Linked DNA regions of Homo sapiens. The protein of the gene in region 1 purifies or fractionates together with the protein of each later gene. This does not show direct contact. Each region holds a gene or a part of one and is shown in the gene's direction. Other genes may lie near its edges.

Region 1 (3,983 bases):
CCAGCCTGGCACCACTCTGTTTTCAGATGCTACTTGAGACCTTTCTGCTATGTCTCTTTCCTCTGCCCAGAATGCCCTCGCCTGCCCCCTTTCCACCAGGGATCCTTGAATGGCTCAAATCTTGTGCTTTCTGCAAATGCCAGCTCAGATGTTACCCCTCCTTTATCGTGGTGCCCCCTCCCCACCCACGACTAACTTAGTCCTTCCTCTATGTTCCCAAGGCACTTTCTCTATGTCTCCATTATTGCACTTGCCCCGTTTTACTAGGAATAAGTATCATGTCTTTAATGGTCTGACCTTCCTCCCTTTCCTCGACCCAAGATGAGGCTCCTAAGGGCAGGAAGTCTATCTCATTCCACTTTGTAACCTTAGTTCTTAGCACCTAGTAGAGGCTTCATAAATATATTTCTTAAGCAAATCATACATTTCTCAGTTCTCTCTCAACACATACATTTTGAGACACAAGACAAATCCGTCTGACAAATAGGAATAATCCATGTGAATGCGTGCTGGAATCTATAAAGTGTTGGATGGATTTAAGCCGTTATAATCATTTATCTCATTCTGGTTTTACATATTTTCTGTTAAAGGGCCGGATGCCCTTATTCTACCTCATATTTTAACAGGAAAAAGTAATGACGCGAGATTCCCGCCTACCTTTTTCAATTCTGCGGAGCCTCTTGCCTGGTTCCTTGCACTGTCAAAAAGGAAACCAGACGGAGGGGCGGGGGTACCGCAGAAGCGAACATTCTAGCCTAGAGGACTTGCTAGTTAAGTCCTGTAAGAAGTTACGCCAAGTCCCCGCCGTCCCCCACCCTCGCCGCTGTCACTCTCTCCCCGTTCAGGTTGGCTGTGGCTGCCCGCAGACACAGGCTCCCCTGCTCGAGTCCCCAGCCAGCGTTCTCGCCCGGGTTCCCGAGCGCGGGCGTCCCTGGGAGAAGCCGCGATGGTCGCTCCCCGCTCGGCGCGGCCCGCGGGGCGGCCTCCCCCGCGCCTCTCGCTGCCTGCCACCCAGAGACCCCCTCTCTCCGCGTGGCCTCAATCACTCCACGCTGACCTTTGGGCCGCCGGGGGCCAGCACGTGACCGAGAAACTTTGGCAGTCGCGGCAGCGGGCGGCGGGGCGGAGGCGCGGGAGGCGGTGCGGCGGCCGAGCTCCCCCGCGCGGCGGGCTCTGCGGCGGGGAGACGCTCGCCCCGTGCCGCGCTGCCTGGGCATGCGGATGCGCCGCCGAGCGCTGCGCGGACCCCGGAAGCCCGCGGCAGCGCGCGCTCAGCCGGCGGCGCGATCCAGCCCCCGGCCCCGCCTGCGCGGCCGGCCCGGCGGGCGCTGCGCCCAGGGACGCCCGGTGCCCGCCGCTCCGCCGCCGCCCGCTGCCGCGGGGTGACAGCGATCCTTCTGTTCCAGCCATTTCCCACTTTCCTCACTCCGTAATTCGGCTGGGAAGTTGGGGAAGATGGATAGGGTCTTGCTGAGGTGGATTTCTCTCTTCTGGCTAACAGGTAAGAGTCCTTTTCAACAGAAACGAATAACTTTGTATATTCCTGTAGTGGTTCTGTTCTCACCGCGCCCCCCGCCCCCCCATTTTCCTCCTTACTGACCATGTTTAAAGCTGCTTAGCGGTCTGGTGGAAAGTGGGGGAGGGGGCAACGTGTGTGTTTGTGTATGTGTTTGTGTGTGTGTGTGTGAGAGAGAGAGAGAGAGAATGATGGGGGCGGCGGGGGAGAAGCCCAATGACAAGTGAGACGCATCTAGATGCAGGTGTTTGACTCATTGGCGCTGAGGTTGTTCTTTCGAATGCATTTCCCCTCCATAAAACGGTTCTCCTTCGGTCTTATCCTGAGTTTGTAATGCTGTGAGTCTTGTGAAAAGCCTGGCTGGAATAAAGGAAGCTCAGAGGGAGCTGATTAATTAAATGAACTGGTTTTCTGGAGGTGGAGGCTAGAGGACTGTCTCCTTAATTTCTTCCCTAGAGAAGGAGGGGGACCCAGGGCATTCTCTCTGTGGCTCTCTGGAGGGTGCAAGGAACTGGAGGTTGGGAAGAAGATGGGGATGGAACCTTCACTGGTTGTGGAGTTTAGAGCCTGGCTCTCTCTTACTTGGTATCATTTGGGGAGTGGTCCCAAATGATAATTAGAAAGCAGAAGAGCCTTTCTAATAGGTGCACTCTCCGCTCCCTAAAAGATAATTTGCAGAGAGATTTAGAGGCATTGGGCTTCTCCCCAGCATCAAAGTCACTGGTCTAGCTGGGTCCTCTGTGCCCTCCCCTCCTTTTTGGTGAACTTTCTCCCCATTCTGCTGGGGTCAGTAGATGCTCTTGTTCTTAACCTATTTCCCCACATGAGGATTCCGATTCCCATAGGGATACAGGGCCTTGGGGTGGCCAGCCCTGAGAGATTCACAAAGCAGCCCTGCTGAAGGGAGTAGGATGGGGGTGAGGAATGTCTGGATAGCTTGGACTGGGTCAGAGGCAACCATTCAAATCAAGGTGGAGGCAGAATGATGGAAGAAATGGAAAAAGGGATCAGAAAGGTGAGGACAGGATGGGGGTGGAAGGCAGGAGAGAAAAGGGACAATAGTACCACATGAGAAGTTTTGTCACCTCTAGCATCACCAGCCAGAAGATCTGGACAAAATCAAGGCACTAGGCAAAGGGGAACAAGCTTAAAATAGCTAAAACAAGTCATGTAAAGGGGGTAAAATACATTTAGCAAGAAAAGGCAAATACCCCATTTCCCTTAGCTTCAGAATAAGATTCTTCATTGCCTAAATATTTTTCCCATTTCAAATGAAATGCCCCTAACATTGCCGTTGCCCCACTGCTGGGTTTAGGCTGGGGGAGGCATCCTCAGCAGAGTTAGCCTCTTCTTTTGGCTGCTTTGAGTTCATCCCTCCCACATTATTCAGATATGAATCATCTCTAATTTCAGGGTTTGGCTGATCCATGCCACCCCGCTCCCCTGGCCTCCCAGTGCCTTCCACTCCCACCCTCACTGATTCTTCACATCCTTAATCTGCCTCTACTCTCGGTTATCAATATTCTCAGGGCACTTAGTCCTTGAGCCTGTATCACAACAGCACTGAAGTCAGCCAGGCATCGGGGGGGGGGGGGAGGGGTCCCTGAGTCAGAGGTGCTCTTTACAGACACGCTGGGGTCTGCCTAAAAGAAGTACTCTGGGGGTTTGCAGGGAGTGAGAGAAGAAGGGAAACATAGAGCTCTCTTTAGATGGCTCACAGCTTTTTATGAAATGGAATCATATCACTGGAGGGTACTACAGGAACTGTAGTTCAGCCCTCTCAGTTTATAGAGATGGAGTCCTAGAGAGGCAATATGCACATAGCACGTTCATGATTGATTAGGGACTAGATTCCAGTTCTCTCAAACTCCAGACCAGTCTCATTTGCCCTCTCCTAAGCTGCCTCTCTGGGCTTTTTGCTGGAGGGCTTTTTGTTTTATTTTTGTTTTGAGGGAGGTGATGGCTTTGTCTGTGCCTTCTGCCACCTGCACCTGGAGAGGCTGTTCTGCTTGGAATCAGGCAACAGGTTAGTTATCAGGACCAGCTCAGCTGTCAGATGGCTGGGGATTCTTTGCTCCAAAAGTGAGACTGACTCCTGGGATCCCATTGATCATCCTCTGCTCCCTGCTCCTGCTTTCTCCTCATCCCATCACTGCTGTCAGAGGTGTGGACAGACAAGCTGCCTCTCAGCCTCAGCAAAGTAGAGGAGCAAACAATGGCGGCTGGGGAGGGGAGGGAGGAGACAGAAGCAGACAAGGAGGAGATGAATTCAGACTCATTCTTCACAGAGAACCATGAGACGAAAGGTGAGAAATTTTAGTCCAGCCCAATCAATGAATTCTCTTTTGAGGGGGTGGTAGAAAGGAAGGGAGACAGGGAAGAACAGATTAAAAATGAGACAGAGAGCCAGGAAAAAAACCACATTCATTCTTCCTCTCCCTCCCTTTCTCTCCCCACCATCTCTCTC
Region 2 (3,500 bases), on another chromosome or scaffold:
TGAACCCAGGAGACGGATTGCAGTGAGCTGAGATCGAGCCATTGCACTCCAGCCTGGGCAACATGAGCGAAATTCTGTCTCAAAATAAGTAAATAAATAAGCAAATAAATAAATAAGATGTCTTTTTATTAACTCTAAGTGCTGGAACTGGATTAGCATTTATAACCACAAATGTTAGTGAAATATAAACTTTTTCTCCTTTGATACAATGAGAAGGAAACAGGAGGGGTTACTTTGCATTATTTGATGTATGTCGGGAAGCCCGGCCATTAGGCAACATATTTTTAAACCACCTTAATTTCCTATATCTCTGATTAATCTGGAAAAAGAAACAGGTTGAAGGTGATCTGTAGGGGGTTACCCGTATCTGTTAGAATTGTTTGTTCAAATGGATTTTTAATTTCTAGTAATTTATTGTTGTTTGCTCCTCTCTCACGCCTAACCCAGATACCAAAAATCTAATTTTCTGATGACATCATTATATCTCTATAGCAGCTGGCTTTGAGAGAGGATTCTAAGTTCAGTGAGATCAGCAGCAAACGAACTTAGAAGAAACAGAAATCTTGTAAATATTCTTTTTTTAAGAGCATAAAATTTGGAAATGATTTTAAAGCAGTATAATTTAGAAATTATATATATATATATATATATATATATATATATATAAAATTCAGAATTATTCCGTGGATTTTCTGTGTCTTTAAAATGCAACACATAATGATATTAGTGTTTTCTGAGGTTCTGGATGGGGGCCGAGGAGAGCGTAGCTAAGCATGGCCTATGTCAGTTCTTCTCTGCAAGGATCAACTCTTAAGAGGATGGCTCCTCTGCCCTCCACCACCTTTTCTTTCCACTTCCTTTGGCATTATTCTTGGTCTGTTTTCACCTCTGTTCTCTGCCTGCCTCATCTCTTTTATTGAGCGCTTCCCAGTCTTAGACCTCTAGTCAGAAACCAATGGGAAAGATTTTGTTACTGTCCAGCACCCTACAGTGACTGGGATGGTGGTGGGAATTCCATGATGACATAGATATCTGTTGTTTCCTGAGAGACATCATGTGTTGTTACACAATAAAAAGGTTTTTCACTGAAAAAAATGTTTAAATCTGTCTCTAGTGCCTCACTTCAAGAATTCAAGAAAACTCACTAATAAACATGTTTAATGCTAATTTAAGATGCGACCATTTAGAAGGGATCTTCAACTATCTGAATAATGTTGGAGCAACATGTGCCATTGTTTGGTTTGGCGAATCCTATAATGAATCCTGTAATATGTAAAGATGGCATTGCGTGCACCCATTCTTAATGAGATTATATTATAATGGGAGTATTTCCATCCTTCACTCCTACTCAAAGCCTGTTCTTTCTCTTCCTTTTGCAATTCCCTGAAAGCTTTCTGCCTGCTGTTAGGTTATTGCTGCCACCTGACGTCTCAAAATAAAATTGCCGTGGGTTTGCTTTTCCAAAAGATTCGCACTATTCTGCATTTTATGGAAATAACTATTTGAGAGCAACAGTTTTTTCTCTATACTCCTAAATAAGAGCATTCTGAAGTGATTACTTATGGTGGGGAGATTATGGGTATCATTCATTCCACAAGCAAAAGGTGGAACTAATAGTACAGGAGGGAATGTAGGAGTCCTAATCCCTAGAATAGGACAAATCGCCATTGTGACCTTGGTGTGTACTTCACCTCATAAAATTGGACTCAGTGCTCTTAACAGCCTTATTCCAGCTTTAACATTGTTTTATTGTGTGTACTTTTATTTATGAAAACATAGCCCTTCTCCGTGATACTATTTACTTTTTTGGACTAAAGTTCTCAGTGTTGAACAGGTTTTCTCTCTTTTTTTTAACAGATACATAATATTTCTACATATTTATAGGATACATGTGATATTTTATTACATGCATAGGATGTGTAATGATCATGTCAGGGTGGCTGAAGTATCTGTCACTTTGAGTATCATTTCTATGTGTTGGGAACATTAAAAGACCTCTCTTCTAGCCATTTTGAAATATACAATACATTGTTGTTAACTATAGTCACCCTACTCTGCTATTGAACATTAGAACTTATTCCTTCTATCTAACTATATGTACCCACTAACCATCCTCTCTTCATCCCTCACCCACCCACACACACCTGCCCCACCTTCTGGTATCTATTATTCTACTCTCTACCTCCATGAGACCAACTTTTTTAGCTCCTACATATGAATGAGAACATGCAATATTTGTCTTTCTGTGCCTGGCTTATCTCACTTAACACAGTGACCTCCAGTTCCATCCATGTTGCTATAAATTACAGGATTTTATTCTTTTCATGGCCAAATAGTATTTTATTGTGTATATATACTAAATTTTTCTTTATCTATTTATTTGTTGATGGACACTTAAGTCAATTCCTTATCTTTGCTATTGTGAATGATGCTGCAATAAACACGGGGGTGCAGGTATCTATTTGATATACTGATTTATTTTCCTTTGGATAAATACTAGTAGTGGGATTGTTGGATCATGTGATAGTTCTATTTTTAATATTTTGAGAAACCTCCATACTGTTTTCCACAGTGGCTATACTAATTTACATTCCCACCAACAGTGGATAAGAATTCTGCTTTCTCTGCGTCCTTGCCAGCATCTGTTATTTTTTGGCTTTTTAATAACAGCTACTCTAACTGGGGTAAGATGATATCTCATTGTCATTTTGATTCAGATTTCTGTGATGATTGGTGATGAGCATTTTTTCATTTATCTGCTGGCCATTTGTATGTCTTCTTTTGAGAAATATCTATCCATATCCTCAGCCCACTTTTTAATAAGTTTTCTTGTTTTTTAAACTATTCAGTTGTTTGAGTTCTTTGTATATTCTAGATATTAGTCTCTTGTCAGATGGATAGTTTGCAAATATATTCTTCCATTCAACAGGTAGTCTCTTCACTCTGTTGATTATTTCCTTTGCTGTGCAGATGCTTTTTGGTTGAATATGTTTTCTTATAGAGCTATGTTAAATAGATGTTCACATTTTCATTGTGTGAATAAATAGCTTTGATAGCTTTCCTTTGCTCAATTATCAGAGACACAGCTGAAGACTCTCTATTGTTTGTTTTTGTTTTTGTTTGAGACAGAGTCTCCCTCTGTCACCCATGCTGGAGTGCAGTGGCGTGATCTCGGCTCACTGCAACCTTCGCCTCCTGGGTTCAAGCAATTCTCCTACCTCAGCCTCCCGAGTAGCTGGGACTACAGGCACGTGCCATCGTGCCTGGCTAATTTTTTGTATTTTTAGTAGAGATGGGGTTTCACCGTGTTAGCCAGGATGATCTAGATCTCCTGACCTCGTGATCCGCCTGCCTCAGTCTCCCAAAGTGCTGGGATTACAGGCGTGAGCCACCACGCCTGGCAACTCTCTATTGTTAATACAGTCATAACCAGAATAACACTTCTCTGCTTGCTTAGTTATTCAGGGACTTCCTTTGCTTAACTTTGTACTTATAGTACA
Region 3 (3,500 bases), on another chromosome or scaffold:
CCTGGCTTGCCCTATTCTTTCCATAGGATAAATTCATAAGAATGAGTTTCCTGGCTTAAAGGATATTCAGAACGTAAAGTTCGAATGTGTTGCTAAGCCGTCCCCTTGCAGATGAGGCTCAGATCTTAGACAGAGAGTGCAGGAATGTGCCTGTCCCTACAGACTCACTGGGTGCTATCATATTTCAGATCTTTGCAGATCCAATGGTGGAAAAATGAGAACTCATGTTCTTAACTACTTTCCTCTGCCACTACCATCAAACACATATTTTGAGTTTTGTGGCTCTCCCTCTTGAAGCCTTGCAAGTTTTTGTTGACTTCCTTTCTCTAAGAGGAGGATCATCAGTTCTCTTGCCCTCCCTCCCCTATTTCCTCTTCTTCATCCTCTTAATATGTTTTTTGATTGGATTTCTAAAGTCTTGTCTATAGAGGTATACATACAATAAAATTCACCCTTTTGGAGAGGAGTTTTTGCATTTTGACAGATGTGTACAGTCATGTATACATGTATATTACAATCAAAATATAGAACATTGCTGTCCCCTGAAAAGTTGTCTCAGGCCCTTTTGTAGTTAATATCTTTTCCCTACTCCCTGGCAACTACTGATTTGTTCTCTGATCCAATAGTTTTGACTTTTCTAGATTCCACTTCCATGTTACATTCCCTCCAGAAATGAATGAGGCTTCCAGCTGTTCTATATCCTCATAATACTTTGTATTACCATTTTAATCCTAGTCATTCTAGAAGGTGTGTAGTGATATCTGATTGTGGTTTTTATATGCATTTCTCTAATGACTAATGATATTGAGTGTTTCTCATGTGCTTATTTGCATCTATACATTTTTTTTTTTAACATGTAGTTCCAGCTCTGTCACCCAGGCTGAAATGCAGTGGCATGATCTCAGCTCACTGCAGCCTCCTCCTCCTGGGTTGAAGCAATTCTCCTGCCTTAGACTCTTGAGCAGCTAGGATTACAGGCACATGCTACCACACCTGGCTAATTGTTGTATTTTTAGTAGAGACAGGGGTTTCACCATGTTGGCCAGGCTGGTTTCAAACTCCTGACCTTGGGTGACCCACCCGCCTCGGCCTCCCAAAGTGCTGGGATTACAGGCATGAGCCACCGCGCCCGGCCCATCTATATACATCTTCATTGGTATAGTGATTGTTCAAATCTTTTCCTATATTTATTGGGTTGTTTGTCCTCTTATTAGTTGTGTAAGAGTTCTTTATGTAGTCCAGATACAATTTTTTAAAAACATCAGATATGTGTTTGTAAATATTTTCTCCCAGTCTGTGGCTTATCTTCTCGTTTTGCTAACCATGACTTTCAAAAAGCAGAAGTTTTAATTTTGATGAAATTCAACTTATCAGTTTTTTGTTGTTGTTGTTGCCATGGATCACGTTTTTGGTGTTGTTTCTAAGAAATCTTTGCATAACCTAAGTCAGAAGGATTTTCTTTTTTGTTTTTTCCAAGGAGTTTTACAGGCATATCTTGGAGATATTGTGGGTTTGGTTTTAGACCACCACAGTAAAGCAAATATGGTAATAAAGTGAGTCACACAAATTGTTTGGTTTCCCAGTGCATATAAAAGTGATGCTTACGGCCAGGCACGGTGGCTCATGTCTGTAATCCCAGCACTTTGGGAGGCCGAGGCGGGCGGATCATGAGGTCAGGAGATCGAGACCATCCTGGCCAACATGGTGAAACCCCATCTCTACTAAAAATACAAAAATTAGCCGAGCATGGTGGTGTGTGCCTGTAATCCCATCTACTTGGGAGGCTGAGGCAGGAGAATCACTTGAACCTGTGAGGTGGAGGCGGAGGTTGCAGTGAGCTGAGATCGCACCACTGCATTCCAGCCTGGGCAACAGAGCGAGACTGTCTCACACATGAAAAAAGTTATGTTTACATTATACTGTAGTCTATTTAGTGTACAAAAGCATTATGTCTAAAAATGTACATACCTTAGTTAAAGGACACTTTATTGCTAAAAAGTACTAGCAATCTATCTGAGCCTTCAACAAATCACACGCTTTTTTGCTGGTGGAAAGTCTTGCCTTGATGCTGATCAAGGTGGTGGTGGTTGAAGGTTGGGGTGGCTGGCTGTTTCTTAAGACAGCAGTGAAGTTTGCCACATCAGTTGACTCTTCCTTTCATAAGATGTTTTTCTGTAGCATGTGATGCTGTTTGATAGTATTTTACTCACGGTAGAGCTTCATTCAAAATTGGAGTCCGTCCTCTCAAACCCTGCAGGGGCTTTATCCACTACATTTATTTAATATTCTAAATCTTTTGTTGTCATTTCCACAGTGTTCACCATATCTTCACCAGGAGTAGATTCCATTTCAAAAAACCACTCATTGTTCATCTATGAGAAGCGACTCCCCATCCATTCAAGTTTGATCATGAGACTGCAGCAATTCAGTCACATCTTCAGGATCCACTACTAATTCTAGTTCTCTTGCTATTCTAATCACATCTGTAATTACTTTCCCCACTGAAGTTTTGAACCCCTCAAAGTCGTCCATGAAGCATGGAATCAACCTCTTCCAAACTCCTGTTAATGTTGATATTTTGACTTCTTCCCATGAATCACAATCACATGTTCTTGCAGCATCTAGAAGGGTGAATCTTTTCCAGATTTTCAATTTACTTTGCCCTGATCCATCAGAGAAATCACTATCTATGACAGCTATAGCCTTATGAAATTTGTTTCCTAAATAATAAGACTTGAAGGTCGAAATGACTCCTTGATCCATGGGCTGCAGAATGGATGTTGTGTTAGCAGCACGAGAACAACATTGATCTCCTTGTGCATCTCCATCAGAGCTCTTGGGTGACTAGGTACATTGTCGATGAGCAGAAATATTTTGAAATAAATCTTTTTTTTTTTTTGAGTAGTAGGTCTTAACAGTGGGTTTAAAATATTCAGGAAACTATGCTATAAATAGATTGCTATCATCCAGGCTTTGTTATTCCATTTGTAGAGCACAGGCAGAATAGATTTAGCATAACTCTTAAGAGACCTAGGATTTTCAGGATGTTAAATGAGTATTGGCTTCCATTGAAAGTCACCAGCTGCATTACCCGCTAACAAGGGAGTTAGCCTGTCCTTTGAAGCTTTGAAACCAGGCATTGATTTCTTCTCTCTGGCTATGAAACTCTTAGATGGCATCCGCTTCCAATATGAGGCTCTTTCATCTACACTGAAATTCTGTTGTTTAATGTGGCCACCCTCATGCATGATGTTAGCTAGTTCTTGTGGATAACTTGCTTCTCCATCAGCACTTGCTGTTTCACTTTGTACTGCTATGTCATGGAGATGGCTTTTTTCCTGAAACCTCATGAACCAACCTCTGCTAGCTTCCACGTTTTTTCAGCTTCCTCACCCACCTTGGCCTTCATAGAATTGAAGAGTTAGGGCCTTGCTCTGAACTAGGCTTTGGCTTAAGGGAACGTTGGCCGGGGGCTGGTTTGATCTTCTATCCAGATCACT
Region 4 (3,500 bases), on another chromosome or scaffold:
GACCTTGCTCAGAGGAAGCTGTATCGAGATGTGATGCTGGAGAACTTCAGGAACCTGCTCTCAGTGGGTGAGGACAGGCACCCTCTGTAACAGAACGTCAGGCCCCAGAGGTGGCTTTGTATCCTAGGGTACAAAGTTTCAAGTCTTAATTAGTAACTTGAACCTATGGTTCAAGTTTGAGTGTGCAGTAAGAACCTAAATTTCTGGTAAACTTTACCTTGATATTACCTAGAATGTGTTGGGATTAAGCATGTAAGTTTGCCTGTTTGCAGGACATCAAGCATTCCACAGGGATACTTTCCACTTCCTAAGGGAAGAAAAGATTTGGATGATGAAGACAGCAATCCAAAGGGAAGGGAATTCAGGTAAGAATCAAGCAACTGTGAATCCCTGTATGTCTCTTCCACCTGTTTCACTTCTGTCCATGCTCAAATCCATTGCCCTGGCCTAAATGGCCAAACCTCTTTCTTGGATTATTGACAACCATCTTACACCTGGTGGCCCTGCCACCCGCCTTCACATCCTGACATCTGTTCTCATAGCAGCCAAAGTGATCCTTAGGAAATGTAAGTCAGATTGCCATTCCTCAGCTCAAAAGCCTGTTTGGCTTATTTTTATTAAAGTTACAACCTCTTTAATTGACTTTTAGAGACCCTGTGATCTGCTCTTCATCCCCTCCCTGCCACCTCTCTAACTACATCTCCTGTCCTCTCCTTCTTGCTCTGTCTTTACCAGCCACTTTATTCTCCCTGCTGTTTCTCTGTCCTCCCAAGGGCACTGTGTTGCCTTTTGCTGGTACCCAGTGACCACAGACTGAGCAGACTGAGAGACAAACATTTATTATTTTTGTGTTCTTTAGGGATGAAGTCTGATACATCTCACTGGGCAATTATCAAGTTGTCTGTAGGGCTTCATGTTTTCTGGATGCTCTTGGGGAGAAGCCTTTACTTTAGTTTATCAGTGTCTAGGCACTGTCCATACTCCTTGGCTCTTGCTTCCCTTCCTCCATCTTCAAAGGCAGCAACTTGCATCCCCATAGTCATGCTCCCTCTGCCACTCTTCTTATGCCTTCCTCTTTCACCTTTTGGGTCCCTTGTAATTGTTTTGATCACTCCTGGATAATCCAGGATGATCTTTCTGTTCTCTGGTTAACTGACTAGCAACCTTAATTGCATCTACAACCTCTGTTCCCCTGCTGTATAACAACGTGATCATAAGTCCTGGGGACTGGATGTGGACATCTTTTAGGAACCATTATTCTGTCTCTACAGAAGCTTCTGTCTCAGCCCTTACTTGCTCATCTCAGTCACTGGGATACTCTGTCACCTCAAAACCTTCTGGCATCTCCTTCAGTTATTCAAGTTTCTTTTCAGTTTTAAAGTCATGAGAGAAGCCATCCTAAACCACTCTCTTTATAATTCCATTCTATTTTGATTCTTCTTGTGCTCTCTTGTACCAAGTCTCACATACTTCTGTTTATCTGTCACTTCTACATGCTGGACTATAATGTCTAAGGAATTTTAACTCTTCGTGGCTGTATTTTCAGTGCCTAGAATGGTCCTGGTACATGGCAGGTTTCCAAATTTTTGTTAACCTGATATATGAGCTAATGAATGGGGTGACTTCACTGTCTCCTGAAATTATGGAGAGAACTAATAAGTGAAACACAAACTACGGTGAAAGAGAGATATTGCAGAACATGTTTTTTGTCTTCCAATGGCCATGTATTTAATTACAATGTTCTTAGATTCCGTTATTTGATTGCCTTGTGTGTTTACGGTGGACCCACATCCCATGGAAACTTCTAAGCATTCTATTTATTACCATACTGAGCTATATGCCTTCCATATGACTTATCCTGGAGCTTTTCATAGGAAGCATATTCATTTCTGGAAAGAAATCATTTTTGAATGAACATTCTGATGTCTACTAGTGAGACAGCTCTTCTACAAGGGGAAAAAATTCTCCATTTTGTGATGTGTCAGATAATAACCAGCTTCCCAGCTAGCTTTCCTTTGAGAGATTTACCCATCTGCAGCCCATTTGCCTTTCCAAAGTCTGCATGCACGTCACTGACCCCAGGTTTCTTCTTCTCCTGGGTGGGGAAGAATGAGGAAGAGAGCAACACAATTCATGCAGCTAAACATTGCCTATATTTCTGGTCATCTTTGTTCAAAAATATGTATATTTCTGCACCTTCATTGTATACAGATTTAATTGTTAAAAACATAAAAGAATACAGATTTTACAACATAATTTTTCCTTTATTTTTTAGAGACCTAGTGCTCTATTTTCAACTTTATAACTTGGAAGGAATCAGGAAACTGCCCTCTCAAAATACTGACATCCTGAAAGAGACTCTCTCTTCTCCCCAAAAACCTCTTAAGTAACAGTGTGTTAAATATATCCATATTCCAGCGTGTACCATTGGGTACATATTTACCTATTACTGTTTTTCCAAGATTCAACCTTGGAAGTTAACTTTCCATTTGACTGACTTAATTTAGGACTTGGTAATATCCTGACCAAAGTTGTCAACATTTTTATGATTGTGAGTCATAGTAAGAAACACATCTTTCACCATAACCAGGACAAACATTTTTCATGCATGTAGATGTCTATGGGTTACTTCAGTAGGCATTTCATGAAATGATACCTTTCTTGCTTGTCATGAAGATGTGATCATTTCTTTTCTAGTTCTTTTTTTCTAAATGCTCATTAGAAGGTTTTAAATTTATTTTATAGCTCACTTTTTGTCTATATTCTTCCATTTGGAAATAAGTATAAAGGAGTATTTATCTATATCATATATTTTCTGCCCTCTTTTTTCTTCTTTTTTTATTTTTTTGAGACAGGGTCTCACTCTGTCACCCATGCTGGAGAGCATTGGCATGATCTCAGCTCACAGCAACCTCTGCCTCCTGAGTTCACATGATTCTCATACCTCGGCCTCCCACGTAGCTGGGATTATAGGTGTGCACCACCACACCTGGCTAATTTTTGTATTTTTAGTAGAGACAGGGTTTCACCATGTTAATCAGGCTGGTCACCAACTCCTGGGCTCAAGCAATCTGCCCGCCTTGGCCTCTCAAAGTGCTGAGATTACAGACATGAGCCACTGTGCCTAGCCTCTGGTCTTTTTTATTTTAATGAGAGTCTAATATCCCCACATGGAACCAACCCAGGGCATGACCCCTCAGGCATTCTTTTTATCCCAAGTGTTCTCACCACCTTTCATTGTCTCATCAGGAGCATCACCCTTTCTTTACCCCTGTCAGGTCCAACCTTTCAGATTCCCATCAAAACTGGTTGTCTGTTTCTTACCTATCTCAGTTAACCAAATTATTGTTCACATCTACAGAAAAATAAAATTAAAGATACATGTTATGCCAAATTCTTGTGTAGGAATATTATGAATATGTAGATATAAACACTCCTAGGCCTTTGATATTATTGTGAAGAGTTTAACTGGCTGCACAGTTTAGAGCAAGAGTTTACAG
Region 5 (3,500 bases), 9.0 Mb from region 1:
ATGCAATCTCACTGCATGCATATGCATATGCATATGTATTCACACATGCCTTCATAGTGCAGCTATACATGCACCCACTTCTTATCCCCATCCCCATACACATCTGGACAGATATCTCTCATCTTTACCCAAGCCTTTTCAGTCACCAGAGCACTAGTGTGCAACAGTAGTACATTTTTGTGAGTCATTTTTCTTCCAGCCATAGCAGCCCTCCTGTGTCTTTAAAGGCACTACTTTTTGCCTTGCCTTGCATGCCCTGCATCCTCTCTGATAGATGCACAAACTGTGAAGTTATGAAAGTTGAGAAAGAAGCTTGGGGTTCCTCATTCTGTAACACTGGTCCCTCTCCATTCTGTAGCTCCAGCTCTTATACCTTCCTACGTCTGATTGTCAGACAATGCGAACCTAATTAAGTTCTTGGAGCATCCAGGATAAAAGCTGCTGTAGCTCGCAGACATCACTGAAGTATGACACTTTTGTTTTTTCTTTCTATCCCACTTACTCTCCCTCTATCAGCTGACTCCAAGCTCCCAGCTTGTCCTTCCCTCCATATTTAATTTATTCAGCCACTTTTATTAACCTCTGTTGTCTCCAGGGGCTGCAGTCCTCATCCCTCTCTGCCCTCCTTGAGCCCATTTAACAAAATAGGCATCGTATTGAAATAAATGAGCCTTGCAGCCAGTCAACCTCCTCAGGATTAAGGGTCTTAAATCCAGGGGTAGAAATCTCCAGAACTCTCTAGCAAATTCCATTAGTTTCCCAGGAGAGAATGCTGCCGCTTCATTCCTTTTGCAATCTGGCTCTGGAAGGTGATGGGAGACTCACCCAGAATGCTGTGGGTCTTGGGTTTTGAGGCAGGGAAGGGATAACAGGAACCCGAGTGTCTGGAGGTGTACTCTGTGCCCAGCAGGTTTATCCCAGGAAGCTGTCCCATCCTAGGTCCGCTTCAGAATCGACTAGGCCATTGGATGCCTTTTCTTTTTGCCCCTTCTTTCCTTCTGAGGCAGTCTGAGGAATATATCTTCACTGAAAGATGTGTGGAAAGAGGAAGGACTTTTGTTCCTTCATTCAGCGGAAGAGAATTGTGTGCTTACTGTGTGCTGGGCTCCAGTGTTGCAAAGTGAATAATGTACTAGATCTCTGCCCTTGAAGGTCTCACTTTGTGATTTCAGTGCAAATTACTTAATCTCAGTAGGCCTCAGTTCTCTCTTTCACCAAATCAGGAGAATTATTTTTTTAATCATCAACTGTACATTATTATATGCAAAACATACTGGTAGGCATTATGTGGACCAAAAAATATGACAGCAGGTGGTCCTTCCCTTTTAAGAAACTAAGATATACACACATGAAGACTGCTGGTGGTGCAAGGTGTGGAGTCATTGGTGCCGTGATAGCAGTGTGCAGGTCAGAGCTAGAGAGTCCAGAGAAGGGACTTTGCTGTGGGCTGAAGTGACCAGGAAGGGCTCCGTGGAGGAAGTGGGGCCCAAGGATGGACAGGACATGGATGTGGCAGGAAGAGGGAGAGCCTTACCAGATGGGCCAGACTTCCGGAACCAAGATGTTGCTGGTGGGATGTGTGGCGGACACTGAGGCCAGTTGGACTGAGGATTTGGGTTGGTTTGGGAGAAACAGATGAGATGATCCAGAACGGCAGAATGGGGACAGACCAGAGGAGGCCTGGAAAAGCCAGGCCAAAGACTTCTTGCAAAGACTCCCCTGTAAGAACTGGGGAGCAATGGATTTCTGTTTTTTAAGCAGACAAAGGGTGTGTTAAAAACAGGTATAATCCCCATCTCACTTCTCACCAAAGCCTCCCCTCCTCTTAAACACCTCTTCTACTGGAGACACTATGGAAATTTATAACCCCTCCAATTAAAAACATGAAAAAAACAGATAACCAAGGTTTGGCCAGGCAGAAGTGAGCAGAAAACCTTAGAGAAATACCAGCTCTGCCTTGGGAAGTCTCAGATCTGTGACTTGAGCCAGAGAGACTTCGGAAGGATGAGGAAATCTTTTCCTCTGAGAATACTTCAGTATAAGATAAAGATGCCTGGAGGCAGAGTTCAACGGCAGTAACTGCGAGGAGAGCTCTGCAGCCTGACTCTGAGGCCAGGCTCTTTGTTACCTGTCCCCCCCAAGCTTGGGCCATGTCTACACTGCCCAGAGTCAAGGGGAGCCATCTGGTTCCATCAGAGGGCCCATCCGGGTTTAGTCCCTTCAGGGTCAATTCTGGGCCATTTCCACTGGTCTGTGGCCTTAGATACATGTGCATTTAGGAGCTGAGCCTAAAGATTCTTAAAACCTCTGCTAGGAAGTGAGCTCTGGTTTTTCAAATGGAGTCCTTTGAAGAGGGTCCCACCAGGGGGGGTGAGAGCATGTGTTCAACTTATGAGCATTGTTTTTTTAAATGGCTGTGCTGGGCCTAGGCCTGGGAATGAAAAGGTAGGTAAGATTTAGTCCCTGTTCTTGAGGCACTCTCAGTATGGTGTGGGAGATGGATGTATAAACACATATTGACAATTTTATAAGATAAAGGTTGTGAGAGAGGTATGTGAAAAATGCTGAAGCCTAACCGTCCAGTGAGGGGGAGTGGAGCAGGGAGCAGGGGCAGGGAGGGGGCCACAGATGTGAGGCTCAGGGGCTGCGGGGCCTCTGGAATGTGGTGCCACGAGATATCCAAGCTCTGGACAATCCCCGATTGTACCCCCTGCTCCGGATGGAAGGAGCCGAGGAATCCGAAGGAGTGAACCCTGGTCCCTCCCAAGGATTATGATTTCCAGGAACAAAGGCAGTTTATATAAAGCACACTTCCCCCAAATCGAATCTCCCAACCTCTTGTGTCCAGTTCCGTACTCTCCACCCCCCACTCCCACCCAACAGAGCTGATTTCTAAATTAACTTTGTCCTTGTAATCAGCTTAGCTGAGTTTTTTTTATTATTATTATTTTTCCTCCTCCTTCCTGAATTCTCCCAGGAACAGCCCGGGGCCTTGCTCGCTCCATTACCCAGCATTGTCAAGCCATGAGTTGCTTTTAACTGCTTCTTCCCATTCGATTCGCTTAACTGGGAGGTTATTAAAAGGAAAGGAGCAGAGATGGGCAGGCAGGGCAGAGGAGGAGAGAACATAGTAGAGAGAGAAGGCATTTCAAAGGAGCAGAAACCCAAGGCTAGGCAGGCTGGCAGAATGAAGCCTCTGAGAGAAGTTGAAGTTTTCATCTCTACTCCTGAGTCATCCAGAAGGACATTTCATCGAGACAGTGGGACTCCTGGGTTTTAATCCAAAACCTTGAGGAATTGACTTGCTCCTCTTTGTCTCAGTCCTCCCCACCACTCCCCACTCTCCCTGGAAATCTACCAGCTTGACACTGTGGGATGGGATGGGGGACTCCCAGAGGTCCCACACTCCCCTTGATGCCTGACCCTCCCACACACACACACTCGTGGCTGGCTGTGCTGCCAGCGCCAGAACCCTCCAGCATTCACCCCCGGGGCAGCTA
Region 6 (4,261 bases), on another chromosome or scaffold:
TTTCTTGAATTGCCAAAATTTGCATACATGCTTACAAAAATAATGCCTGTTGAATTTGCTAGATATGTAAAGGTTTGGAGCAAATCAGGTGTATTAAATTTATTAATATTGTTTGAAATGTCTAAGGCAATAATTCCCAAACTTCGTTGAGGGAGAAGGAAAGCTTTTAAAATCCCATTGCCCAGGTGGCATCCCATACTGTTACTGGGAATTATGCATTGGGATGGATCCTTTAACCGAGGAGATTATTATAGCCGGAGCTCTGAACCAGCAATCTCAGTTCTTGTGATAGTGAGCAAAGAACTACAAACTAACACCAAAATGCAAGCTTAAAGCAAAGTTTATTGAAGCACAATAATACACTCTGAGGGACAGCGGGCTTATTTCTGCGAAGTGAACTCAGCACTTCTTTACAGAGCTCAAGGTGCTTTTATGGGGTTTGTGGGGAGGAGTTGAGGTTTGGGCTGTATCTGAGTGACAGGATGATGTTATTTGATTGAAGTGTATAGCTATACAATCTAAAATTAAACTGTGCATGGTCTTACCTATAATTTGTTAAGAAAAGCCTCCCAGGGATGGGGGGGCAAAACTGTATGTAAATTCTATTATAATGATGGCATGATGAACTTGGGGTGAACTTGAAGACAGGCTTTTGTGTTGTTGGGCATGTGCCACCTTAGGGAATTTCCACCTGTACCCTCCTTTCTCTTTCTCCAGGATATTTTGGCCACAGACTTTATCATAAACTCCATCCCTTAGGGTGGCATTAGGGTAGTCTTGGGCCTGAATTTAGGTGGGCCAGTGGCTGTCTTAGTGACAGCCTTTCCGCTCTCTTCTGTCATCCCCTCCCAACTGCTAATGTCTAACTACCTAACAATTACCCATTAAATCAGTGTGTCTGGGGTTAGGAGCAGGCCTCAATATGTTTAATCATTCTCCAGATAATCCCAATACTGTAAAGTTTGTGAAACACTTGTCAGATAATTCAATTATGAAGGCTGTGGAAGGTGTTTCAGTAGGATCTAATTGGTTAATGTTATGACTTAATTAATTTGAATCAAAAAACAAAATGAAAAAGCTTTATATTTCTAAGTCAAATAAGACATAAGTTGGTCTAAGGTTGAGATAAAATTTTTAAATGTATGATTGAATTTTGAAAATCATAAATATTTAAATATCTAAAGTTCAGATCAGAACATTGCGAAGCTACTTTCCCCAATCAACAACACCCCTTCAGGATTTAAAAACCAAGGGGGACACTGGATCACCTAGTGTTTCACAAGCAGGTACCTTCTGCTGTAGGAGAGAGAGAACTAAAGTTCTGAAAGACCTGTTGCTTTTCACCAGGAAGTTTTACTGGGCATCTCCTGAGCCTAGGCAATAGCTGTAGGGTGACTTCTGGAGCCATCCCCGTTTCCCCGCCCCCCAAAAGAAGCGGAGATTTAACGGGGACGTGCGGCCAGAGCTGGGGAAATGGGCCCGCGAGCCAGGCCGGCGCTTCTCCTCCTGATGCTTTTGCAGACCGCGGTCCTGCAGGGGCGCTTGCTGCGTGAGTCCGAGGGCTGCGGGCGAACTAGGGGCGCGGCGGGGGTGGAAAAATCGAAACTAGCTTTTTCTTTGCGCTTGGGAGTTTGCTAACTTTGGAGGACCTGCTCAACCCTATCCGCAAGCCCCTCTCCCTACTTTCTGCGTCCAGACCCCGTGAGGGAGTGCCTACCACTGAACTGCAGATAGGGGTCCCTCGCCCCAGGACCTGCCCCCTCCCCCGGCTGTCCCGGCTCTGCGGAGTGACTTTTGGAACCGCCCACTCCCTTCCCCCAACTAGAATGCTTTTAAATAAATCTCGTAGTTCCTCACTTGAGCTGAGCTAAGCCTGGGGCTCCTTGAACCTGGAACTCGGGTTTATTTCCAATGTCAGCTGTGCAGTTTTTTCCCCAGTCATCTCCAAACAGGAAGTTCTTCCCTGAGTGCTTGCCGAGAAGGCTGAGCAAACCCACAGCAGGATCCGCACGGGGTTTCCACCTCAGAACGAATGCGTTGGGCGGTGGGGGCGCGAAAGAGTGGCGTTGGGGATCTGAATTCTTCACCATTCCACCCACTTTTGGTGAGACCTGGGGTGGAGGTCTCTAGGGTGGGAGGCTCCTGAGAGAGGCCTACCTCGGGCCTTTCCCCACTCTTGGCAATTGTTCTTTTGCCTGGAAAATTAAGTATATGTTAGTTTTGAACGTTTGAACTGAACAATTCTCTTTTCGGCTAGGCTTTATTGATTTGCAATGTGCTGTGTAATTAAGAGGCCTCTCTACAAAGTACTGATAATGAACATGTAAGCAATGCACTCACTTCTAAGTTACATTCATATCTGATCTTATTTGATTTTCACTAGGCATAGGGAGGTAGGAGCTAATAATACGTTTATTTTACTAGAAGTTAACTGGAATTCAGATTATATAACTCTTTTCAGGTTACAAAGAACATAAATAATCTGGTTTTCTGATGTTATTTCAAGTACTACAGCTGCTTCTAATCTTAGTTGACAGTGATTTTGCCCTGTAGTGTAGCACAGTGTTCTGTGGGTCACACGCCGGCCTCAGCACAGCACTTTGAGTTTTGGTACTACGTGTATCCACATTTTACACATGACAAGAATGAGGCATGGCACGGCCTGCTTCCTGGCAAATTTATTCAATGGTACACTGGGCTTTGGTGGCAGAGCTCATGTCTCCACTTCATAGCTATGATTCTTAAACATCACACTGCATTAGAGGTTGAATAATAAAATTTCATGTTGAGCAGAAATATTCATTGTTTACAAGTGTAAATGAGTCCCAGCCATGTGTTGCACTGTTCAAGCCCCAAGGGAGAGAGCAGGGAAACAAGTCTTTACCCTTTGATATTTTGCATTCTAGTGGGAGAGATGACAATAAGCAAATGAGCAGAAAGATATACAACATCAGGAAATCATGGGTGTTGTGAGAAGCAGAGAAGTCAGGGCAAGTCACTCTGGGGCTGACACTTGAGCAGAGACATGAAGGAAATAAGAATGATATTGACTGGGAGCAGTATTTCCCAGGCAAACTGAGTGGGCCTGGCAAGTTGGATTAAAAAGCGGGTTTTCTCAGCACTACTCATGTGTGTGTGTGTGGGGGGGGGGGGCGGCGTGGGGGTGGGAAGGGGGACTACCATCTGCATGTAGGATGTCTAGCAGTATCCTGTCCTCCCTACTCACTAGGTGCTAGGAGCACTCCCCCAGTCTTGACAACCAAAAATGTCTCTAAACTTTGCCACATGTCACCTAGTAGACAAACTCCTGGTTAAGAAGCTCGGGTTGAAAAAAATAAACAAGTAGTGCTGGGGAGTAGAGGCCAAGAAGTAGGTAATGGGCTCAGAAGAGGAGCCACAAACAAGGTTGTGCAGGCGCCTGTAGGCTGTGGTGTGAATTCTAGCCAAGGAGTAACAGTGATCTGTCACAGGCTTTTAAAAGATTGCTCTGGCTGCTATGTGGAAAGCAGAATGAAGGGAGCAACAGTAAAAGCAGGGAGCCCAGCCAGGAAGCTGTTACACAGTCCAGGCAAGAGGTAGTGGAGTGGGCTGGGTGGGAACAGAAAAGGGAGTGACAAACCATTGTCTCCTGAATATATTCTGAAGGAAGTTGCTGAAGGATTCTATGTTGTGTGAGAGAAAGAGAAGAATTGGCTGGGTGTAGTAGCTCATGCCAAGGAGGAGGCCAAGGAGAGCAGATTCCTGAGCTCAGGAGTTCAAGACCAGCCTGGGCAACACAGCAAAACCCCTTCTCTACAAAAAATACAAAAATTAGCTGGGTGTGGTGGCATGCACCTGTGATCCTAGCTACTCGGGAGGCTGAGGTGGAGGGTATTGCTTGAGCCCAGGAAGTTGAGGCTGCAGTGAGCCATGACTGTGCCACTGTACTTCAGCCTAGGTGACAGAGCAAGACCCTGTCTCCCCTGACCCCCTGAAAAAGAGAAGAGTTAAAGTTGACTTTGTTCTTTATTTTAATTTTATTGGCCTGAGCAGTGGGGTAATTGGCAATGCCATTTCTGAGATGGTGAAGGCAGAGGAAAGAGCAGTTTGGGGTAAATCAAGGATCTGCATTTGGACATGTTAAGTTTGAGATTCCAGTCAGGCTTCCAAGTGGTGAGGCCACATAGGCAGTTCAGTGTAAGAATTCAGGACCAAGGCTGGGCACGGTGGCTCACTTCTGTAATCCCAGCACTTTGGTGGCTGAGGCAGGTAGATCATTTGA
Region 7 (3,500 bases), on another chromosome or scaffold:
GCAACAGAGCGAGACTCCATCTCAAAAAAAAGAAAATGTATTCAAGGAAGGAAATATCAGTAATATCAGTAACTGCCTTGTGCTTTTTAATGATTTGCTTCTTCAGTTGTAGATAATCATGTCATTCTTGCTTGGAGCTATTTTAGGCAGCCTTTACTGACTCCTTCCTTCTACTACATAGTACCAGGAATTGGGAGAGGTGTGGTTTAAGTCATTCTTTTTGTGGTTGGCATATTTAGGGAAAGATTTGGTATAGGAGAAGGTCAAACTAATATTTCAATGATGGTTTTAGACTGTGCATGGCTTTCAATCATCTGAGCAACTTCTACTTCACCATCCCTGGCCCCTAACATATATAACTAGTTGACCAGGATTACTGAGTCACTTGGCCTTGGATTTTTTTTTTTATGCCTCCCAAGTTCCATATGAATACATTTAAAGCAGGGAGTTTAGAGCAGGTGGAAAGTTGGAAGTCTGTTTGATTTTGTCGACCGTAGGAAATATGGATAAAGATACATTTGCTAGAACTAAGGAGAAATAAGAGTAGCTTTAATGCTGTGTAGCTCTCCCTAAGGCCCAAACAGGAGACGCAAACTAATGTGATGATGTAAGAATTTTTCTATTTCTCACACCATCCCTTGCTTCCACTCCAAGCATGGTAGTATCTGGGTATTTAGGTGATTGGTGAAACACACCAATTGAGTAGCCAAAATGAATGTGTCTGAATGACTCCCCATGACATGGTTTCTATACCTTGAGGAGAGACAACATGTTTCTTCAGGAGACAAGAAGTTGCTTTCCCTGTGTGCTCCACTGTCTTAGTCCTTTTTGTGCTGCTATAACAGTGTACCTGAGCCTGGGTAATTCATAAGGACCTGAGATTGATTTCTCACTGTTCTGAAGGTCAGGAAGTCCAAGAGCAAGGCGCCATAGGTTTGGTGTCTCTACTTCCAGGATGGCTCCTTGAACACTACATCCTCTAGGGGGTTGGAGAACGCTGGTACTCATGTGGCAGAAGAATGGAAGGGGCAAGAGAAGGAGAGAGGGCCAACTTGCCTTTTATAACAAGCCTAGTGCCACTCTAACAACCTACTCCTGAAAAAAAACAAAAAACAAACAAACAAACAAAAACAGTATTAATCCATTCATAAGGGTGAAGACCTGATGGTCTAATCACCTCTTAAAGACTCCACCTGTTAACACTGTTACTGTTAAAGCAGCAATTACATTTCAATGTGAGTTTTGGGGGGGATAAACATTCCAGCCATAGCACCCACCCTACCCCTAACTCTCTCTGTTGGGCGCCACCCCAGGAGCTACATCCCTCTTGACCCACCCCCATTTCTCAGCCACCTGCCCTGGCCATCCATCCTTGGATCCCAGGCTACCTGCTGCCCTCCTGGGTGCATGAAAGGAATGTTGGCCAGTACCAACATTTTTTTAAAGTGGCTACTTTGTAAAAGTAGGAACTCTTGGCATACACTAGAGCATGGGCACCACCTGCACCATTCCACGGGTACCTGCCTCTGCCAGATACCCCTGAGGGAAGAGGATGTTCTATAACCAGGCCGACAGGTTAGCATTTGTGAACACAGTTCTGACGTTGTTGGGAGGGTTTGTTTGCCAGAAACATCCCCATGCGCTACTCTTTCAACCAGAGGTCAAGAAGTCCTTTACTTTTGTGTCTTTTTTGTTTGTTTGTTTGAGACGGAGTTTCACTCTTGTTGCCCAGGCTGGAGTGCAATGGCGCAATCTCGGCTTACCACAACCTCTGCCTCCCAGGTTCAAGCAATTCTCCTGCCTCAGCCTCCCGAGTAGCTGGGATCACAGGTGCCCACCACCACGCCTGCTAATTTTTGTACTTTTAGTAGAGACAGGGTTTCACTGTGTTAGTCAGGCTGGTCTTGAACTCCTGACCTCAGGTGATCTGCCCGCTTCGGCCCCCCAAAATGCTGGGATTACAGGTGTGAGCCACCGCGCCCAGCCTTCTTTTGTGTCTTTTAAGCTGCACTCGGAGCACAGGCAAGGTGCTTCCTCAGAGGGAGGTTGCTTAACATGGGGAGACATCCACACAGGAGACCACAGCTGATCCATCCCTTGACTGTCAGCAGCAAGTCCCCCTCTCTGCATTTTCCAGCTCATGACATAGTTTGGAAATAGCCCTGCCCTGGGGTCTGCTCTGTGGTTGTAACAGTGGAGCCCTCCGGTGACATCTGTGGGCCAAGTCATTTCACCATGACCTTTGGCCATGCCACATGCAGTCATCTGAAAGCTGCACCTTCTGGGGTCTGAGGGGTTTCTTGGGTATTTTTTCCTGATTGAGACACATCTGCTGGGCCCCTGAGAGAATGGGGGATACCTGGCGGGGCCAGCATTCTTCACGGAGCTATTCCACGAGCTACTATGAGAACATGGTGACTCAGAGAGGCTCACGTGTCTGCACTAAATTCAGACCTAAAGTAATAAGCAGATTCTTGGGAACTTTTTTTTTAACTGTACTTGATGTCCTTTTTGTTTTTGTTTTAACCAGACCCAAGTTCAGGACCTCTGTGTTTATCACAAGCAGGACTTGTTCCATTTGGGAACGAGGACCTAGAGAACAGCAGCAAAAAGCTGAGCCTTCCCAGGACCTGGAGGAGGGTGTTCTGTGAGCTTCCACAGAGCAGATGCCTTAAAAACGAAGGAGCTGTCTGGAAAAAATCAGGAGAGAGAGAGAGATTGAGATTTGCAGGAAAGCCTTTACTGCCAATGCTCAACAGAAAGTCTGAGTGTTCCACTAAGAAAACTGCTCCCCGAGGGAGAAGTGGGTCCCATCCTCTTGAGTTTGATGAGGGTGGGAATCAGCTTTGTAATTTTTATTTTTTGGCCTGTGGATGGTTCGTAAGCTGGAAAGGGTTTGGGTCCCCAAGAGCTCCCCGATGCACAGCTCTCCTGTGTCCTGTGTGGGGCTATTTAAGGATGAAAGGCCAGGACTGTGAATCCTGATGGTCACAGCTCTCTCAGCTTAAAGCTAGGGGACCCCGCTCGAAGGGGACCCTGAAGTACCCTGCACCCCAATATCTGAAAGTCCTCTGACCTCGCTTGCACCCCCTGGAGCCTCGGCACTCAGTGCCTTTGCTGAAAGTAGCAGCCGCCGCACCAGTAGTGGTGGATCAGAGGTTAGTTTTCCCAGGAGCCTGGCACTATTGGATCAGGTTTCTTTTCAGGAGAAAGAGCAGGGAGACAGGGAGCTAACCCAATCACCCACGTCTATGCTCTTTGGCCTTAGACACAGCTTGGCCAGGTGGGGAGGCGTCCTTCCCTTTGCAGAGCCCAGAGCAGCCCAGGTTCGGGTCTGGCAGTCACTGTGAGCAGTTTTCAAGCCTGTCCCTTTTCTACCCTCTCCTTCTAGAAGGTGCTGGACGAATGCCAGAACCAGCGGGCCTGCCACCTCCTGGTCAATAGCCGTGTTTTTGGACCTGACCTTTGTCCAGGAAGCAGTAAATACCTCCTGGTCTCCT

The links.
Region 2: the proteins of ILDR2 (region 1) and HSD17B12 purify together in Homo sapiens (affinity purification with mass spectrometry, with the first as the bait; one study listed by BioGRID). This does not show direct contact.
Region 3: the proteins of ILDR2 (region 1) and ADGRG5 purify together in Homo sapiens (co-immunoprecipitation; one large-scale study listed by IntAct). This does not show direct contact.
Region 4: the proteins of ILDR2 (region 1) and ZNF224 purify together in Homo sapiens (affinity purification with mass spectrometry, with the first as the bait; one study listed by BioGRID). This does not show direct contact.
Region 5: the proteins of ILDR2 (region 1) and KIRREL1 purify together in Homo sapiens (co-immunoprecipitation; one large-scale study listed by IntAct). This does not show direct contact.
Region 6: the proteins of ILDR2 (region 1) and HFE purify together in Homo sapiens (co-immunoprecipitation; one large-scale study listed by IntAct). This does not show direct contact.
Region 7: the proteins of ILDR2 (region 1) and EVA1C purify together in Homo sapiens (co-immunoprecipitation; one large-scale study listed by IntAct). This does not show direct contact.

The regions. Positions count from the first base shown.
Region 1 is NC_000001.11:166,972,741-166,976,723, reverse strand, and holds the start of ILDR2 (immunoglobulin-like domain-containing receptor 2 isoform 1 precursor), read left to right. Parts: upstream 1-1,183; 5' UTR 1,184-1,455; coding exon 1,456-1,501; exon of another isoform or gene 1,502-3,475; coding exon of another isoform or gene 3,476-3,542; exon of another isoform or gene 3,543-3,731; coding exon of another isoform or gene 3,732-3,822; intron 3,823-3,976; exon of another isoform or gene 3,977-3,983. UniProt on the Homo sapiens protein: May be involved in ER stress pathways with effects on lipid homeostasis and insulin secretion. With ILDR1 and LSR, involved in the maintain of the epithelial barrier function through the recruitment of MARVELD2/tricellulin to tricellular tight junctions.
Region 2 is NC_000011.10:43,809,738-43,813,237, forward strand, and holds part of HSD17B12 (very-long-chain 3-oxoacyl-CoA reductase), read left to right. Parts: intron 1-3,500. UniProt on the Homo sapiens protein: Catalyzes the second of the four reactions of the long-chain fatty acids elongation cycle. This endoplasmic reticulum-bound enzymatic process, allows the addition of two carbons to the chain of long- and very long-chain fatty acids/VLCFAs per cycle.
Region 3 is NC_000016.10:57,549,143-57,552,642, forward strand, and holds part of ADGRG5 (adhesion G-protein coupled receptor G5 isoform 1 precursor), read left to right. Parts: intron 1-3,500. UniProt on the Homo sapiens protein: Orphan adhesion G-protein coupled receptor (aGPCR). Ligand binding causes a conformation change that triggers signaling via guanine nucleotide-binding proteins (G proteins) and modulates the activity of downstream effectors, such as adenylate cyclase.
Region 4 is NC_000019.10:44,100,861-44,104,360, forward strand, and holds part of ZNF224 (zinc finger protein 224), read left to right. Parts: coding exon 1-67; intron 68-272; coding exon 273-365; intron 366-3,500.
Region 5 is NC_000001.11:158,000,145-158,003,644, forward strand, and holds part of KIRREL1 (kin of IRRE-like protein 1 isoform 1 precursor), read left to right. Parts: intron 1-3,500. UniProt on the Homo sapiens protein: Required for proper function of the glomerular filtration barrier. It is involved in the maintenance of a stable podocyte architecture with interdigitating foot processes connected by specialized cell-cell junctions, known as the slit diaphragm.
Region 6 is NC_000006.12:26,085,968-26,090,228, forward strand, and holds the start of HFE (hereditary hemochromatosis protein isoform 1 precursor), read left to right. Parts: upstream 1-1,461; 5' UTR 1,462-1,473; coding exon 1,474-1,549; exon of another isoform or gene 1,550-2,195; intron 2,196-4,261. UniProt on the Homo sapiens protein: Binds to transferrin receptor (TFR) and reduces its affinity for iron-loaded transferrin.
Region 7 is NC_000021.9:32,454,206-32,457,705, forward strand, and holds part of EVA1C (protein eva-1 homolog C isoform 1 precursor), read left to right. Parts: exon of another isoform or gene 1-3,384; intron 3,385-3,391; coding exon 3,392-3,500. UniProt on the Homo sapiens protein: Binds heparin.